Linked DNA regions of Homo sapiens: region 2 is linked to region 1. A link means that fine-mapping ties the variant in region 1 to the expression of a gene that starts in the linked region. Tissue or cell type: unexposed skin. Region 1 holds a variant in brackets; the other region holds the start of a gene. All regions are shown on one strand. Distances are from middle to middle.

Evidence for each region. PIP is the estimated chance that this variant, and not a neighbour inherited with it, causes the effect.
Region 2: SLC52A1 starts here. The variant in region 1 is fine-mapped to the expression of SLC52A1 in unexposed skin (GTEx, PIP above 0.99).

The regions. Positions count from the first base shown.
Region 1 is chr17:5,054,316-5,057,071 of GRCh38, forward strand. No RefSeq gene overlaps it. Among named protein-coding and RNA genes, the nearest start is that of SLC52A1, 20 kb to the left of the region's middle. RefSeq lists an enhancer at 1,239-1,533. The variant G/A (reference allele first, on the strand shown) is at 1,133.
Region 2 is chr17:5,033,981-5,036,588 of GRCh38, forward strand. SLC52A1 (solute carrier family 52 member 1) reads right to left here and starts at 1,446. Exons shown (of 5, transcript NM_017986.4): 1 at 881-1,446; 2 at 497-733; 3 at 1-378. The coding sequence starts at 626. All of the region lies in intron 3 of LOC105371501 (a long non-coding RNA gene), which reads left to right.

The sequences.
Region 1 (2,756 bases):
CATCTCACACCTCTTTGTATCTTTCCCAGGACCTACTTCACAGTCCTGTGTTCCACTGTAGGCCCTCATTCTCTATATTTGTATGTACCTAGATAGTGTGGGTCTAGGCTCTGGGGACAGAGCAGTGAAAAAAAAAACCTAACAATAATCCCTGCCCTCGTGAATTATACAATCAGAGGAGAAAACAAAACAATAATTTAAAAAGTAAATAAAATATGTAGTACGGGCCGGGCGTGGTGGCTTATGTCTTAATCCCAGCACTTTGGGAGGCTGAGGCAGGTGGATCACCTGAGGTCAGGAGTTCGAAACCAGCGTGGCCAACATGGCAAAACTCTGTCTCTACTAAAAATACAAAAATTAGCTGGATGTGGTGGCACATACCTGTATTCCCAGCTACTTGAGAGGCTGAGGCAGAAGAATCGCTTGAATCCAGGAGGTGGAGGATGCAGGAGCAGCCACTCCCGTGCGGGTGACAGAGCGAGACTCCGTCTCAAACAAAAACAACAAAAACAAAAACAAAACAAAACAAAGACAACTGTTTAGAAAATATAAAGTGAGAAAGGGGGCTATAAAGTGTGTGACTGGAGGGAGGTAGGACACTGAACTATTAGATAGGATGGCAGACTTTTGGGTAGAGTATAAAAGAGGTGAAAGAGACATAAGGGCTCTGGAGGAAGAGCATTCTAGGAAGAGAGAATAGGATATGCAAAGGCCCTGAGGAAGGAATACGTCTCATACCATCCCCAGACAGCAAGAACATGGAGGCTGTTTGTTGCATTTCCCGTCCTGCATTACAATAAAAAAAAAAAAAAAAAAAAAAAAAAAAGGCAGGCCTCTAGCAGCTCGAAATAGCCATAACTCATCATCATCACTCATGATAAGAACTCAGCATTTGGCTGGGTGTGGTGGCTCACGCCTGTAATCCCAGCACTTTGGGAGGCCGAGGCGGGCAGATCACCTGAGGTCGGGAGTTCGAGAACAGCTTGACCAACATGAAGAAACCCCGTCTCTACTAAAAATACAAAATTAGCCGGGCATGGTGGTGCATGCCTGTAATCCCAGCTACTCAGGAGGCTGAGGCAGGAGAATTGCTAGAACCCCCGGGAAGTGGAGGTTGCGGTGAGCCAAGATC[G/A]CGCCACTGCACTCCAGCCTGGGCAACAAGAGCGAAACTCCACCTCAAAAAAAAAAACAAAAAACCATAGATTTTTAAGGCCTCGGCACTGCCATACTATGACATGGGCCTACCCTGGGTGGTCATTGTCCCATCTTGCACAGCCCCCAACCTCTTCTCTGGAGGACAACGACAGCACAAGAAAGCGCTCTGAAGATGAGCCGCATCACCACTCTTCCAGCTCACCATCGATTTGGAAGCCTAGAGAGGATCGGCCTTTCTAGGACAATAGACGGTTCCTTCTCCTCACCTAGAGTGGCCCTAAGAGGACGAGGGCGCCTCCCTGGTCCTCCAGGGGAGTGTGCATCCCCAGGTGCACAGGGAAACGAGCTCTCATCCTACCACCCTTGGGCTTTTACAGATGCTTTTCTCCCCTTCACTTTCTTTTTCATTTCTTTTCTTTTCCTTTTTTTTTTTTTTTTTTTTTTTTTAATTTTTGAGACAGAGTTTCGCTTTTGTCACCCAGGCTGGAATGCAATGGCACGATCCCGGCTCACTGCAACCTCTGCTTCCGGGTTCAAGTGATTCTCCTGCCTCAGCCTCCTGAGTAGCTGGGACTACAGGCACCCGCCACCATGCCTGGCTAATTTTTTTGCATTTTTAGTATAGACGGGGTTTCACCGTGTTAGCCGGGATGGTCTTGATCTCCTGACCTCGTGATCCGCCTGCCTCGGCCTCCCAAAGTGCTGGGATTATAGGTGTGAGCCACCGCACTTGGCCTCTTTCTTTCTTTTTTTGGAGTTTTGCTCTTGTTGACCAGGCTGGAGTGCAATGGTGTGATCTTGGCTCACCACAACCTCTGCCTCCCGGGTTCAAGTGATTCTCCTGCCTCAGCCTCCCGAGTAGCTGGGATTACAGGCATGCACCACCACGCCCGGCTAATTTTGTATTTTTAGTAGAGATGGGATTTCTCCATGTTGGTCAGGCTGATCTTTAACTCCTGACCTCAGGTGATCTGTCCCCCTCGGCATCCAAAAGTGCTGGGATTACAGGCGTGAGCCACTGCGCCCAGCCTGGTCTGTGTTTCTTTTACTGCTGTCAGTTTCTTGTTCAGGTTCACAAATTTGTTATATATACATAACAAATATAATATTTAATATATATATACTTTTTTTTTTAGCCTCACTCTGTCTCCGAGGCTGGAGTGCAGTGGCATGATCTCGGGTCACTGCAACCTCTGCCTCCCGAGTTCAAGCAATTCTCGTGCCTCAGCCTTCTGAGTAGCTGGGATTACAGGTGGGTACCACCATGCCCGGCTAATTTTTGTATTTTTAGTAGAGATGGAGTTTTGCCATGTTACCCACGCTGGTCTCAAACTCCTGAGCTCAAGTGATCCACCTGCCTTGGCTTCCCAAAGTGTTGGGGTTACAGGCGTGAGCCGCGGCTCCCAGCCTACGGATATATATACTCTTAACTACAGTCTGTACCAGCCTGGGCAACATGGTGAAACCCGGTCTCTACAAAAAAATACAAAAATTAGTCAGGCAAGGTGGCGCGTGCCTGTAGTGCTCTGAGCATGCAGAGCATTATATTAAGTACTTTACTTCAGATAACTTTGATTTTACATGTCCACCTCTTCCATTAG
Region 2 (2,608 bases), 20 kb before region 1:
GGCGGCCCACACCTTGCACTAGGGCCAGCACACAGGGGAGTAGGGCACTGAGACCCTGACCCAGGAAGAAAGACCGTAAGAAAGGAGGTGGCAGGTGGCTCAGGAAGGGCAGGAAAGTGACATTAGAGGTACAACAGGCCATTGCCAACACCAAGGCCAGAGTTAGGAAGGCCACAGAGTGGAGCTGCCCTGCCACTGGGGCCACGTGGTGCCACAGAGGGGCCAGCAGGGCTGTGCCCACTACACTCAGCACCTGTACCACCTGGATGGGGACCTGCTCGCCCTTGCCCGGGGCCAGCTGCCTCCACAGGGTCACCACCAGCAGACCCAGGTTTCCCAGCGCCACAACCACAGAGAGGTATGAGGGGAGGCTCCAACCTGCAGGGAAGGAATGATGCCATGTCAGGAGCACAGTGGCTAAGGGACAAAGAGCTGCCACAGGCCACCTTTCTGGGCATACCTGCCCCACGCTTCCCTGTACCTCCCTCCCACTCACCCTCTGGAAGGTCTTTTACCACCACAGGCAGCTCCACCCAGATCCCGTTCACAGCAGCCCAGGAGCCCATGCCAAAAAGGGCCACCAGCAGGTGGGTCAGCACCAGACGGCCCAGCGTGGGTGCTGCCATTCAGCCCAAAGCTGGACCCTCCAGGACAGGGCAAAGGTCACAGGCAGGTCCTTCCCTAGGTAGGTCCAAAGATGCTTTGGTTCTTCTGGAAACTGAAGACCTTCTAGCTGGAGGGAAACAGACAGGCTGGCAGGTAATAGGCTGGTGGGACAGAACCGGAGTCAGAAGACAAGTCGGTCAGACTGCTAAGACCAGGGCAACTGGAGGGAGAGGTGGCCGGGGGCGGGCGGGGAAGGTGGGGAGCCAGGACTTACCACGGGGCACCGGCTGTGCGTTTGGGTACAGCGACCCAGCAGTGCCGGCAGGCAGACAGGCAGAAAGCTGGCCCGAGGTGCAGCTGCCCCAGAGGAGCAAAGAGGGAGCTGATTTTCCTACCCACAGAGGACCCGGGGTCCAAGTTGTCAAAACAGCTCAGCACTGGCCGGGTGCGGTGGCTCACACCTGTAATCCCAGCACTTTGGGAAGCTGAGGAAGGCAGATCGCCTGAGGTCAGGAGATTGAGACCATCCTGGCCAACATGGTGAAAACCCGTCTCTACTAAAAATACAAAAATTAGCTGGTCGTGGTGGTGGGTGCCAGTAATCCCAGCTACTCAGGAGGCTGAGGCAGGAGATTCACTTGAACCCGGAAGGTGGAGGTTGCAGTGAGCCAAGATCACACCACTGCATTCCAGCCTGGGCGACAGAACGAGATTCGGTCTCAAAAACAAAACAAAACAAAACAAAACAAAAAAACAGCTCGGCACCAACACGCTCACCCTCAAATGGACCCCGGGACAAGGGCACGTCTCTGGTGCCACTTGCAACCCTAGCGCTTTTGCGACACTCAGGACTTGCTGAGGCAGGTCGAGTTGGAGAGGGGAGTGGCTGGGGCGGGCTCTGCCCGGAGGGGCGTCTCCGTGCTGCCCTCCCGCCTGCCTCAGGGGGGCATCCCGGGAGCCGCCAGGTGCGCAGGGGTCCCCGCACCTCCGGATCCGGCAGTCCCCGGACCCAGCGGCTGGCGGTCTGCCTGAGAGGGAGCCCCCTCCGCCGGGGAGGCGGCCCAGCCCAGAGCCCACACAGCTGGGGTTTTGTTGTTTGTTGTTTTAATTAATTAATTAATTTTGAGACGGGGTCTCACTCTGTCACCCAGGCTAGAGCGCAGCGGTGCGCGATCGCGGCTCACTACAGCCTCAACCTCCCAAGCTCAAGGGATCCTCCCACTCAGCCTCTCCCCACCCCCCCACAAGTAGCTGGGACCACAGGCGAGCATCACCATGTCCAGCTAATTTTTTTTTTTTTTTTTTTTTTTTTTGGTAGAGACAAGGTCTCACTATGTTGCTCAGGCTGGCTTGGCACTCCTGGGCTCAAGCAATCTTCCTACCTCAGCCTCCCAAGTAGCTGGGACTACAGACGCACCACACCTAGCTACCGCCACGCTCAGCTGTTTTTACACTTTTTTTTTTTTTTTTTTTTTTTGAGACGGAGTTTTGCTCTTGTTGCCCAGGCTGGAGTGCAATGGCACGAGCCTCTGCCTCCCGGGTTCAAGCCATTCTCCTGCCTCAGCCTCCCGAGTAGCTGGAATTACAGGCGCCCACCACCATGCCCTGCTAATTTTTGTCTTTTTAGTGCACAGGGTCTCGCCATGTTAGCTAGGCTGGTCTTGAACTCCTGACCTCAGGTGATCCACCTGCCCCGGCCTCCCAAAGTGTTGGGGATTACAGGCGTGAGCCACCGTGCCTGGCCAGCTGTTTTTACACTTTTAAATGGTTGAAAAAAAATTAGCTGGACGTGGTGTGCACACCTGGCTAATTTTTGCTTTTTTTTTTTTTTTTTTTTTTTTTTGAGACGGAGTCTCGCTCTGTCGCCCAGGCTGGAGTGCAGTGGCGCGATCTCGGCTCACTGCAAGCTCCACCTTCCAGGTTCACGCCATTCTCCTGCCTCAGACTCCCGAGTAGCTGGGATTACAGACGCCTGCCACCACGCCTGGATAATTTTTGTATT